4 linked regions of the Homo sapiens genome follow. The protein of the gene in region 1 interacts with the protein of each later gene in a pairwise test. Each region holds a gene or a part of one and is shown in the gene's direction. Other genes may lie near its edges. The genes, in order: PAK5, ATPAF2, PDLIM7 and DDX6.

Region 1 (2,674 bases):
GATTGAAAGCTGGTTGTATGAGTCTGTTTTTACACTACTATAAAGAAATACCCAAGACTGAGTAATTTACAAATAAAGAAGGTTTAATTAACTCACAGTTCCACATGCCTGGAGAGGCCTCAGGATACTTACAATCATGGCAGAAGGCGAAGGGGAAGCAAGGCATGTCTTACATGGTGGCAGGAGAGAGAGAGCGCACAGGGGAAATGCCAGACACTTATAAAACTATCAGCTCTCATGATAATTCCCTCACTATCTTGAGAATAACATGGGGTAAACTGCCCCCATGACCCAATTACCTTCCACCAAGTCCCTCCCTTGACATGTGAGGATTACAATATGAGGTGAGATTTGAGTGGGCACAGAGAGCCAAACCCTATCACTGATTTAAGCTGAAGAGTGAAGGAAGCCCTTTCTAGGGAGGGATCAAACGAGCTGGGACCTGAATAGGAAGAAGGTACCAGCCATGCAAAGATCTTGGAGAAAAAGGTCCCAGGCACGGGGAGCATCAAGTGGAAAGGCCTTAAGCCAAGAAAGAAGGCTTACATTGCTGGAGTAAAGTCAGAAAGGGGAAAAAGGTAGGTCTTGTCAGAGAGATGGGCAGGAGCTAGATTGTACAGGGCAATGAAGGTCATGGTTAATATAATGCATGTAAGAGACCGAGTGGGGTCTTTTCTGTTTTCCAAGGATTGCCAATTAGGACGAGCTCAGAAAATAATGATGCTTCATCCAAGAATCACCACTGTAGGAGCTGCCAGATTTCCAAAGGACTTGCTCAGAGGATCATTTCTGCAGGACTACTACTATAAACACTGGCCCCATACACACCTCTCTTCCTATCTTATGACAATAAAAGAGAGTGTGTGGCTGCCTTTTGGAGGAGAATTATTTGTAATGGTAATATCTCCTCCTTCCTCACCCCTAAATCTTAGGGAACAGCCCCAGTAGCATCACTCATATAGGTTGTGTGGACCTACAAAAACATAAACAAAAAAAGAGAGATTGAAATTTTTACTGGATTGGACTAAGTCTAAATAATGAAAAGTGGCTGGGTGTGGTGGCTCACGCCTGTAATCCCAGCACTCTGGAAGGCCGAGGTGGGCGGATCACGAGGTCAGGAGATGGAGACCATCCTGGCTAACACGGTGAAACCCCATCTCCACTAAAAATACAAAAAATTAGCCAAGCATGGTGGCGGGTGCCTGTAGTCCCAGCTACTCAGGAGGCTGAGGCAGGAGAATGGCGTGAACCTGGGAGGCAGAGCTTGCAGTGAGCCCAGATCGCACCACTGCACTCCAGCCTAGGTGACACAGCGAGACTACGTCTCCAAAAAAAAAAAAAAAAGTGACTAAAAATGTATCATATGAAAGTAGTCTCACACCCAGTGAGTGCCAATGTTCTTCAAAACCATGTACAAGAACAACTTTAATCCTAATGGTTTCAAAAAAACTGGAAACCAGTCCGAGGTTGTTTCCCAAATGGATAATGTGTGGTATAATTGGACAGTGAATACTACACAGTAATTTAAAAGATATAACTTTTGCCACACGTCGGAGATGAATCTCACAGATACAACACTGAGTGAAAGAAGCCAGATAGAGAAGAAATCAAATATATGACTCCATTTTGGTAAAGTACAAAAGTAAGCAAAACTAAGTTATGCTATAAATTAAAATAGTGGTGACCTTTTGCAGGGAGATAGGGGTTGGCAGGAAGGAAACCTAAAAGTAGCTTCCTAGAGTGGTAGAAAAGTTCTATATCTTGATAGGAGTGGAAAGTAAATAGGGGTAAATGTATGTAAAAATCCATTGAGCCACACTCTTAGTATTTGTGCAGCGGAACCTGGGCATGCTGGCACATGCTTGTACTCCCAGCTACTCAGGAGGCTGAGGTGGGAGGATCATTTGAGCACAGGAGTTTGAGCCTGGGCAACATAGTGAGACCTCATCTCTAAATATATACATAAAGTAAGATATACCTTTAAAAGGAAAATTACAAGACCTTCAAAGAAAAAAATGAGATGTGTTCGATATCCTTACAGAAGCTTGTTTCTCTTAAAGAAAGGGGTTCCACAGAGCCTGTGTGGTTGCAGTTGTTAGAAAAATAAAACGGCTCCCTGTTTATACTATGCTTCATCAAGCACGTGTGACCAGCACCTGCACATACTAAATATTTTGTAATAGCTGCTCTTATCACTGTGATTGCCACTGTTATTTTATGTAGTAAATAAGTTTTCATTCTTAGTTGAGCTGTCATTTACACCTATTATTTCACACTTGAAAAAGGTAAGGAAAACACGAAATGTTAACAAAGACAAGACATGCTTTTGCTTTCACAACATCTTTCTCCTTAAGGTAACTTTCTGGAATTTGAAGTTGTTGATAGGATGAATGGGGAAAACATTTTGGGGACTGGGTTAGGTGTCTGTGTTAGTCCTCAGATTGGTATCTGTGTGTTTTCACAGGTTTCTTCAGTGCTCCGGGGATTCCTAGACTTGATGTTGGTGAGGGAGCCCTCTCAGAGAGCAACAGCCCAGGAACTCCTCGGACATCCATTCTTAAAACTAGCAGGTCCACCGTCTTGCATCGTCCCCCTCATGAGACAATACAGGCATCACTGAGCAGAGGATTCGTGTAGGTGGCAAAGCTAGATGAGGACATGAGAATAATTCAGG
Region 2 (3,571 bases), on another chromosome or scaffold:
TTCAACCTAGCTCAGACAAAAAGGGGATTCTTGAAAACTATACAGGGATCCTGACAGGAAATGAAGGACAGTTGGGTCACCAGGAAAGGTAGCTGGAAGATCCAATGTCAGAGCTCCTCCCTGTGCCCTACTAGGGTGAGAGGAAGGTGAGGGAGGAAAGGCTGGTTGTCCATCTGCCCCTCCCAGCACCCCAGCTTTTCCTGCATAACTCATGACCTCTCTTCCCCACTTTGCTTACACAAGACAGTGGATTTCCATAGTGCCCACTTGGATTCCCATCCCATGAGGCCCTGCAGCTCAGCTCCTCTCAACTGGCTCATGTCTGTGTCTCTTGGTCAAACAAATGGCACAGCCTGACCTCTAGCTTGGTCCCATCAGGTCTGGCATCTGTGCCAGCAGCTGCATCTGTAGCCAGGAGGTGGGTGGACTTATGAGGTATAAACAGGCTATTTGGTCTGTGACCAGGGGCACAGTCTCTTGGAGGGGGTGAGGGTAGAGATGCAAAGACTGAGCATCTGGCACAGCATTCCCATTCAGCATCTGGGTCAAGCGGGTGTGGACCCAGGGTTGCAGTTAGTAGATTGGATCTGCTTTAGGATGGCAGTAACAGTGTGGCAAGCTTGGACCTGTCAAATATTTGGGGGCATTTAGGGTAGTGGTTCTCAAACTCAAGCTTACACTAGAATCCCCTAGAGGGCTTGTTAAAACAGATTGCTGGGCCCCCCTCCAGAGGTTCTGATTTCTGTAGGCATGCAACCTGAGAATGTGTATTTCTAACAAGTTCCCAGGCGATGCTGGTGCCAGGGCCACACTTTGAGAACCACTGCTTTAGGGGAAAAGACTTGTGGGGCTGGGATGGTGGTGGTGAAGTTTTTGCTGTTGTCCTTTGTGTTTTTCCTTTTCTATCACTGAATGAAGGAATTGTACTTTTTTATTAATGAAGGTTATTTTTACAATGAATTAGCTACAGGGTGGAGGAGCCCGAGACATTAGTGGAACTTCAAAGGAATGAGTGGGATCCAATCATCGAATGGGCTGAGAAAAGGTAAGATGTACAGCCCTGCAGAAAGCACTGACTGGGCACCTGCGTTTGGTGGAGTGTAGGGGTCAGGGGGTCACGCTGGAAAACTAGTGCCCTTAGCTAGTCAGCTTTCTGATTTCAGAGCACTCGTGGGATTTGGCTCCCCTCATATGATCAGGGATAGGGTCATCCTGGGAAAAAAGCACCTCAAATTTAATTTCAGCCACTAGGTACAGCACACCTGCTGTAGCGGTTCATGAAGTGTAGGGGCAGCTCTGTGTCCTTGGAGAAGCAGTGGAGTTCCCAGGCCACCTTCTGCCAGCGGGTCAGAGCAGCAGTGTCGGTTTGAATCCCAGCTCTGCTGAAGACTCAGCTGTGTGACTTGGCTAATGAGTTGATCTCTCTGAGCTTCAATTTTCTTGTCTATAAATGGGGCTAATAATCCCTACCTCTCAGGGTTTGAGGAGGAATAAATGAATTGATGCATGTAAAGGCTTAGCATCCTGCTTATTAGCACACAGTAAATGTTCAAATTTTGGCAGTGATTTTAATCTTTGTCACAATTGCTGTACTATTAAATAAAATAACAGAACAACATATACGATATGTATGCACTTGGAGAAAAGTCTGGATAGCTTCCTGCAAAATTACGGGTAACATCCAATGGATATGTAGCTTCCAGGAATTGATATGAAATATTTTTCTTTAATAGGAAGACTCTTGAGTGCAAAGTTGAATGGATTATTGATGTGGTGGCAAAATAAATTCAATTTCATTTGATCCCAAGGGAAATTTGGAAGGGCTGGCTTTCATGGTACTACCTTGACTGTGGTATTTTCTAAGCTTGCAAGGCACATTTCTTGGTATAGCAGTTTTCCACAAAAGTGATGTTACCAATCAGTTCACTGATTTGCCACATGCTGCCCGATGCTCACAATGTGGCAGGTGTCCTTGGGTCTTAAAAGAGAAGGCAAAGGCAGTGCTCTAAAGACCAGACTACAATACTATGTGGGAATGTGACAAAACAGTGTCATTTCAGAATCTAATGAAATGTAATAATAATTTAGGTGCCTAGAGATCTTTGCTATAGTATAAAATCATCAGATTCTTGTGGCAGGAAATACCTCATCCTTAAGAGTTTATAGAAAAACTTAGCCATTTCTTACAGTCCATTTGTACTATTAGGAATTTCAGCAAGGATTTTTTATTTTTTCTTTCTTGAGATGGAGTCTCGCTCTGTCGCCCAGGCTGGAGTGCAGTGATGCGATCTTGGCTCACTGTAACCTCCACCTCTTGGGTTTAAACGATTCTCGTGCCTCAGCCTCTCAAGTAGCTGGGATTACAGGCGCCCACCACGCCCAGCTAATTTTTGTGTTTTTAGTAGAGATGGGGTTTCACCATGTTGGCCAGGCTGGTCTCGAACTCCTGACCTCAAGTGATTGCCCACCTCATTCTCCTGAAGTGCTGGGATTATAGGTGTGAGCCACTGCACCCAGCAGGATTTTTTTTTTTTTTTTTTTGAAAGGAGTCTCGCTCTGTCACCCAGGCTGGAGTGCAGTGGCGTGATCTCAGCTCACTGCAAGCTCCGCCTCCCAGGTTTTATGCCATTTTCCTGCCTCAGCCTCCCAAGTAGCTGGGACTACAGGCATGCACCATCTACACCCGGCTAATTTTTTTTGTATTTTTAGTAGAGACGGCGTCTCACCGTGTTAGCCAGGATGGTCTCAATCTCCTGACCTCGTGATCCGCCCGCCTCGGCCTCCCAAAGTGCTGGGATTACAGGCATGAGCCACCGCGCCCGGCCCCAGCCGGATTTTTTTAAGCAACAGAAAAAAATCAGTGATATATGGAAGAAAATTACAAAAATTATTTTTATCCCCCATTGTGTTTTTCTGTTTTATTTAGTTATGATTATTCTTGAAAATGTATCTTCTCAGCCAGGCGCAGAGGTCAGGAGGCGGAGGTCGCAGTGAGCCGAGATCATGCCACTGCACTTCAGCCTGGGGTAGAAAGCAAGAAAGACTTCATCTCAAAAAAAAAAAAAAAAAAAAAAGTTTGAAAAAATGACTGCTGACTGGTCATGGTGGCTCATGGCTGTAATCCCAACACTTTGGGAGGCTGAGGTTGGCAGATCGCGTGAGTCCAGGCGTTTGAGACCAGCTCGAGCAACATGGTGAAACTCTGTCTCTACAAAAAAAATTAGCTAGGTGTGGTGGCACATGCCTGTAGTCCCAGCTACTTGGGAGACTGAGGTGGGAGGATCGCTTGAGCCTAGGAGGTCAAGGCTGCAGTGAGTCAAGATCATGCCAGCGCACTCCAGCTTGAGTGACAGAGCGAGACCCTGTCTCAATAAAAAAGAAAACCTCCATGATATATGACATAAACATTATTTTAAGGAAAACCATTTTAAATATTGTTTTTAACTTTTATATGTCCTCAAATGTGAAAAACTTTAAAGAGATGTAAAAGGCAGATGGCCTTTTGATGGAGATTCCAGGTGAATGAATGAGCATTTCAGGCAGCTGCGTATAACCGAGCCCTAGCTCACAT
Region 3 (4,039 bases), on another chromosome or scaffold:
GGCCAGAGGCAGAGGAGGATGGGAAGGAGGGGCCAGTGGGGCAGGGGGAAGCTGTGAAGCCAGGGAAAAAGGGTGTTTCGCGGAAAAGGATCAACCTGGACCAGTGCTGCCCCTAGGCAGGGCAGGATGAAACTTAACCACCACGGATTCCATGGCCCCATGGCCTCCAGGCCACAGGGGACCTTGAGAAGAGAGATCTCAGGGGACGGGTGCGGACAAGAGCCCGCCTGGCATGGCTTCAAGAGATAACTGAAGGAAAGCAAGTGGAGACGCGATAAACAGACAACTCCCTGGAGGAATTTTACTCTCGAGAGGAGAATTAAAGGGTAGTAGCTGGAGAGGGATGTGGGGTCAAGAGAAGGTCTTTAACGACGAGAACTCTCACGGCGGTTTGTGCAGAACAGGGTGGGTGTGATGACTGTGGATGGAGAGGGGAGAACTGCAGCGACTCTGTCCTAGGAGGAGGTGATGGGCCGGGACCACCAAGCGAGTGGAGGGTGGACGCCCCTTCCCTCACCCCGACACCCGCATGTGCTCAGTGTCCGTGCCGCCGGCCCTAGTGCCTGGGCTGAACGCGGGGCCGGGACTCTGAGGACGCCTCCCAGGCGGCGCAGTCCGCTCTGGCCAAGGTGGAGCGGGACGCGGCGCTTCCGACGGTGCGCGGGTCGGCTCGGGGTTGCAGGGACATCCGGCGTCCGCTCCTGCCCTGTTTTCCTGCCTTCGGCAGAGCGTTGCGCAACTCTAGCTTTAAACGCCCCTGTCCCCCTCAACTTGTCTCCCCCAGCCCCTCTGATTTACAGATTCTGCAGTCCCCGAGGGTTGCGCCTACGATACCGACACTCGCGGCAGCCCTGCGAGGCGAGTATGATCGTCCCATTTTTCGGAGTAGCAAACTAAGGTTCAGAGACTACTATGTCCCAGGTCGGTCTGGTTTGAAGGTCCGCTTTCCTCTCCCTCCGCCAGCGGGCGGTGCGAGGGACTGGGCGAGGCAGCGCTTCCCTAAGGAGGCGACCCGCAGCCCCGGCCCCCTCCCGACTCCGCCCCGTTGCAGGGCCCGGGTCGGCGAGGCCTCTCAGCTCTAAGCCCGACGGGACTTGGTGATTGGGCAGGACGGAAGAGCTGGGTGGGGCTTTCCACCAGCGGAGAAAGTCTAGTGGGCGTGGTCGCGACGAGGGCGTGGCCTGGTGCCCCGCCCCCGTCCGCGCGCTCAAAGTGGAGGGTGGCTGTGGGGGCGGGGTCAGAACACTGGCGGCCGATCCCAACGAGGCTCCCTGGAGCCCGACGCAGAGCAGCGCCCTGGCCGGGCCAAGCAGGTATCGACGACCGCGCGGGGCGTCTTGGGCTGCACCAGGCGGGCGCCCGGGGCCTGCTGAGGACCACAAAGGGCACTGGGGGTCGTGGTCCAGGCTGTGCTTCCTCCCGCTGGCCCTGGCCCCTGCCTCCGCCCCCGCCCCCGCCTTCCTGCCGCTAAGCCGGCTGCGGCGGGGCCGATTGGCGCCTGCGCCGCTTCCTGCGGCCGGGGCCAGTCTAATGCATGGGGCCCGGGCGGGGGACTAAGGGGAAACTGAGTCACGTCGGTGTGGGAGCAGTTCTGTGTGGGAGGCACCACCCCCCACTGGGCTCGGGGAAGGATCCCCCTCCAAGCTATGCTTGAGGGTCCCAGCCCCCATCTGTCTCCACAGGGGCCGCACCCCACTCCCGCCTTCCCCTTCTTCAGCACCCAGGGGTCCCGCCCTGGCTCCCAGCAGCCTCGACTGGTCCCGGAATGGCTAGGAGGATCCGCTGCAGCCGCCTCCCTCCCCTCCCCTCCCCTCCCCTCCCCTCCCCCCCCCCTCGCGTCCCAAGCCCCCGTGTGCTCCCTCCGCTGGCTCTCCGCACAGTGTCAGCTTACACGCCTTATATAGTCCGAGCAGGCTCCAGCCGCGGCCTGCCTGCCGGGACCTGGGGGCGGGGGAGAGGAGAGCCGGCCCCTGACTCACCCGGCCGCCCGAGGCTCCAGGCTGGCTTGGGGGGAGGCCGCGCCAGTTTAGTCCCTCGGCCCACCCCTGGTTGCAAAGAACCTCAAGCCTGGATTCAGGCACCCCTCACCGTTCCAGTCCCAAGGGGAGGGGGGCTGCTCCTGTCTTTCCAAAGTGAGGTCCGCCAGCCAGCAGCCCAGGCCAGCCTGACAAAATACCTGCCTCCTATGGCTTGGGCGTGCTCAGGGGCTGCCCGTGCCTGCCTGGCCCCTGTCCAAGGCTGGTATCCTGAGCTGGCCCGGCCTGCCTGCCTGCCCGCCCACCATGCTGGCCACTCACCTTCTCTTCTCTCCTCTCAGGAGCCGGCATCATGGATTCCTTCAAAGTAGTGCTGGAGGGGCCAGCACCTTGGGGCTTCCGGCTGCAAGGGGGCAAGGACTTCAATGTGCCCCTCTCCATTTCCCGGGTGAGCCTAGGTTTGGGGAGGGGGCTCCCCCAGCGGTCTTTCGGTGCTTAGGTCTCCAGAGGGTGATGGGGGGAGTCCTAACAGGAGCTGGTCAGGGGCCAGCAGGCCAGGAGATGTCTAGGTCCGGAGATGTAGTGGTACCTGCCTGCCACAAGGACTCCCAATGAGGTGGATACTGGGAGGGAGCACCCAGGCTTCTCCAGCCCTGCACTGTACCCGATGCTGTTCTCCCAAGCTCCTGTGGCCACCTCTGAGGGCTGGAGGGAGGCTCATTGTGCAGGATGGGAGCCTAACATTTCAGGAGGTATCTAAACTTGAGGTGGCAATGCTTGGAGCCAGGCCCCAGGCAGGACACTGTGACTATAGGATTTCACTTCAGCCTCACTGCCGCCCAGGGAATAGCAATCCTCATCCCGTTTTTCCAGATGAGAGAAGAACTCATGGAGAGGTGGCGGGGCTCGCTCATCGAGTCCATGGTGAAGCAGGGATTGGAATTGAGGCACAGCATGGCGTACATTTTTTGTGGGTAGAAGGGGTCTCTCCCCAGCCTATGTAAGGACCCACATCCACTGTTCCCATTCAGGATGTGGTGGCCTTTGACCCCAAGCAGAAGTGTAGGACAGGGCTCCATTCTAGGGGCTTAACTTCAGCTTCCAAGAGCCTGCCCTGGTGTGGGTGGAGCTGGAGGCTGGCTCCTCCCTGTAGCAGGGGGATTGCCTTATAAGCCCAAGAATGCAGCCCCACGCTGGGATGGCCAACAGTGGCTGCGGTCTGCAGAGCTGAAAAGGGCTGGCCTAGGCCTGGCCCCCTGAACCCCACTGGTGGGCCTCTCAGCTGGTCACCAGGCTGCAGCTCCAGCTATATGGTCCAGTTGTGAGACACAACAAATTGCCTGCCCAGAGTGGGTGAGGCCAGCCTGTCGGCTGGCATCTCTGACTGGCCTGGGGGTCAGGAGGGGGTGGGGACTTCCTGCCCCTATATCCGCCTGCCCCAAGAGACCCACCCAGGCGCCGGGTGGGCAGGCAGCTGTTGTCAGGAAGCCCAAGGCAAGCCCAGCCTGGAGGGGCCCAGAGGGTCGTGGCCTGAGGAGGGGCTCAAGCTGGAGTCTGTCTGTAGGAGCTGGGCGTGGGGGTTAGGGTGGGCAGGCCAGCAGTGCTCTTCTCAGGGGTCCTTTGATGGCATTCTCCTGGAACCTGCCCCGCCAGCAGGGTAGTGAGGCAGTGGTTGCCCTATGACACACGTCCCACTACATAGCCCTCACACAGCCCTGAAACCTACCTGACGTCCTGCTCCCTGGGAAAGTGCTGGCCCAGTGTGTCTGGGGAGCCTGAACCTCAGTTTCTTCCCTGATGGAGATGACTTTCAGATATGGCCTGTTGGGGGCACTCCGGGCTCCAGCTCCCTGGTCAGCATCCCTGGCATGTGGGCGGGGCCACTAGCTGATCCCAGCCCTGGAGTTGGACCTGGGCCCACATGGGTGGGTGAGGTGGGCTTTTCTGAGTTAGGCCAGCCCCCTCCCCCTCCCCTGACCCCAGAATGGAGGGAGGTGGGAGGGGCAAGGGCTGGCTGTGGGCCCAGGCCTGGGAGATGAGGTAACGTCTGGGACTGGGGGGCT
Region 4 (3,022 bases), on another chromosome or scaffold:
GAGGCATCTGGAAAGGGGGGGAAAAAAGCAAAAAACAAAATTAAAAAAAATTGATTTCCATATTTTATTTTTCAAAACCCTAAAATATTACAAAATAAGTCCCGCATATACTTTAATGTTTTAACTCTTTTGGACAAAGGAATCAATTACTTGAAGTTGCTTTTTTGACTCTGCCTACTTCTGAGCAAACTATTTGCGACTCACCCACAATTCCTTGGAGATCAAAATCCTACAGATGCCTCCTGATGGGACATAGCCCTAACTCCTTAACAACTGTAGCAAGAACTGCACGGTACAAACCCAAAAAAGAACAAGCTCATCTATTTGGAACCCAAGCCTCATATTTTCTGTCCAGTCAATGTTGGTTACTAAATAGAAAACCTAATTAAGGAAGTAACTTTTTTCCAGGGAGGGGTGGGAGAGGGAATTTAAAAGGTGTCAACTTTTGACCAAAAAAATTGTGCCCTTGTACCGATGCAGCTCTCTTTCTCCCCCACCTCTTGCGAGATAAGAGGGATCATTCATGTAGAAGAAAAGAGTATAAATGCAATTCTGTATCTCGCTAGAGAACGTGTGGGTGACTAAACAAAAAGTGCAGTCTCCTTCACCAACTTTAGACTGCGTGGTGCCACATGCCTGTGGGTCCCTCTTAAAGCACAGACTTAAAATGGAAAGTATTACTGAAGTATAGCCTCTAATGAGGAGTGGCACTTAAACTATCTGGGACACCACTACTGGACACGGTCTTGTAGAGGCAGCTGTCCAGTTTTGGTGCTTGACTCTTGAATAGGAATTGTTAAATGGAAAGATGCTCTGAGGACTAGGTCAAAGCCTGGTCTTTTTTTTTTTTTTTTTTTTTTTCTTTCTTTTTTGGGCCCTCATAATAAGCATTGTTACTATTGGAAGTTGTTTTCACATTCTTTCCAATATTAAATATGTATTTTTTTAAGTAATGATAATATTTTCCAGTGGCTCATTTGGATGAGAACTACCCTCTATTTTTAATATTAAAACTACATCCAACTCATCATTTAGCCTTTGGTTGTACAGTTGTGTAATGGGCTATGGACTGTTACACACCTTACCACCTCTAGGCCTATGTTTTTTCTTTCCCCATATATTCTGATGGGGATAAATACTGTTTTGCCTCTCCCATAGGAATGGAATACATTTATTCTAAAATGATCTTTCACAGAAGTAAGAGAGAGGGAAACCTAAATATACCTCTAAATTGTTTGAAGTTGGTCCCAGCAGCATAAAATGGGTTGGCCCCAAAGGGTTGGAGGGTGGGCTTGGTTATCAGTATTTGTTTTCAGAATGAGATGGGAGCATCTTTCCTTTGCCACGTGCTTTGTGCTTGATAACATCATGCTTGGTTCAAACGACAACTCAGCACAAAGCCTTGAGTATAAATTGTTGGAATCAAAACATCTCATTCTGATGACGTGGTTTAATTTTTTAATTTTTTTTTTTAATAGGGGTGGGAGGGAGGGTACTTTGCCCCAGAAGGGAGGGTGTCTGCACTAAGGATTTAGAAACACTTTGGAAGCTCATAACCTCATCAGAAACTGCCTTTAGCCACACTCCTGACCTTCTAGATGAGTAACAAAAAAATGAAATAAGTTCTTGGAAATTAAGCCATTTATTTTAATTTGCTATTTTTTTCAATGTTCTAGGTATCTTTAAATTTGTTATTGTGGAATCATTTTCCTGCCAGATACCTTTATCAAAATTATTGGCCTCATGAGAGCTGAAGTAAGTCAGCTTTTTGGTGAACTTTAGTGGACTTCTGTGAGATTGTAGTTGTACTTTGTATCTCTAAATCTAAAGATAGTTTTTTAAAACTCCCAAAGAAAATCTGCTCTCCTTTCTGATCTAAAAACTCATCTTTGGGGTAAAGAGTTAAGTGTCCAAAGGTTGTCACAGTTCATGAGGTCAGAGGGAGCTAGCCTGGCACCTGGACTCTGCCCATCCACAGCTGACAGATTCCAACAGAAGTGTATTTAAATTCTCCAGTAGACAATGCTGGGTAAGGGAGGGGGTAGGGCTGGGTTATTAAGATACAGGCTGCTGTATTTTACATTGGTTGTGTGGGAAGGGGAGCCTGGAGAAAACAAAGTCACTATTCCCTTTTTTGAAACAGGAAAAAAAATTATTTTTTGTTCAGTAAAAATGGTAGAGAATTCCAATGTCCCTAGCCACAAGGGACCAGTTCCACTGAGAAGTGAACAGTGGGAACTCAAAATTTCAGAAACATTGGGGGAAGGGAAAATTGGCTTTCTCTTAATTGGCAGATGTTCCAGTGGGGGGGGGGGGGGCTCTGTTTTTGTTGGGATGTGTTATGTTGTATGTACGCATATATGGACCGGAGTCTGCTGAGTTTATAAGGTTCCAAAAATATGGTAAAATCTTGGTTTTTGTTAATTTATCTCAATAAAAGCCCACTGGAACTCCAAATGTGTGTGTGGTATGTCCTTAGTAGCAGCTGTGTGCATAGGAATCTGAGCATTTTGCTCAGGTAATTCATACTGTGAAACAGACATTTCTCAACCCATCATTCCTGTGAAGCCCAGTTGAATTCAGAGCCCCTTCATCTGTTGTAGATACTGTTCCACCATGCTGTCAGATTTCACAGCCTAAATGGAGAACCAAGATAATCGGTTGGGAAGAGGGGAGATGTGGTCCATAATATGTCCAAATACATCAGTAATTACCACCTCCTACAATTGTTCTCAAATGTAAAGCTGAACATACCCCCAAAACCAAGGCATACTACATCTTAACAGTATGAATGGAATTCATATGCTGAGAACTACAAACCACTGATGAAATAAAAGATTGGGAAATAAAAGTTGGGAAAAGCAGACACTTAAAGTTGAGCACATCACTCTCACTACCTCTCTACCCAAAGAAATGCTTAAGTATAACTAAGAAAATAGAGTCAGTCCCCTGTATCTGGGTTTTACGTCTGCACATTTAGTCAACTGCAGACCAAAAGTGTTAGGCCTACAATGGTTGGGTC

What was found.
Region 2: the proteins of PAK5 (region 1) and ATPAF2 interact in binary tests that used the Homo sapiens proteins (3 or more experiments, as listed by UniProt).
Region 3: the proteins of PAK5 (region 1) and PDLIM7 interact in a two-hybrid assay, tested with the Homo sapiens proteins (2 studies listed by BioGRID and IntAct).
Region 4: the proteins of PAK5 (region 1) and DDX6 interact in a two-hybrid assay, tested with the Homo sapiens proteins (one large-scale study listed by BioGRID and IntAct).

Annotation. Positions count from the first base shown.
Region 1 is NC_000020.11:9,539,408-9,542,081, reverse strand, and holds part of PAK5 (serine/threonine-protein kinase PAK 5), read left to right. Parts: intron 1-2,464; coding exon 2,465-2,620; 3' UTR 2,621-2,674.
Region 2 is NC_000017.11:18,022,098-18,025,668, reverse strand, and holds part of ATPAF2 (ATP synthase mitochondrial F1 complex assembly factor 2), read left to right. Parts: intron 1-964; coding exon 965-1,045; intron 1,046-3,571. UniProt on the Homo sapiens protein: Plays a role in the assembly of the F1 component of the mitochondrial ATP synthase (ATPase).
Region 3 is NC_000005.10:177,494,802-177,498,840, reverse strand, and holds the start of PDLIM7 (PDZ and LIM domain protein 7), read left to right. Parts: upstream 1-1,236; 5' UTR 1,237-1,313; intron 1,314-2,317; 5' UTR 2,318-2,328; coding exon 2,329-2,424; intron 2,425-4,039. UniProt on the Homo sapiens protein: May function as a scaffold on which the coordinated assembly of proteins can occur. May play a role as an adapter that, via its PDZ domain, localizes LIM-binding proteins to actin filaments of both skeletal muscle and nonmuscle tissues.
Region 4 is NC_000011.10:118,747,198-118,750,219, reverse strand, and holds the end of DDX6 (probable ATP-dependent RNA helicase DDX6), read left to right. Parts: 3' UTR 1-2,457; downstream 2,458-3,022.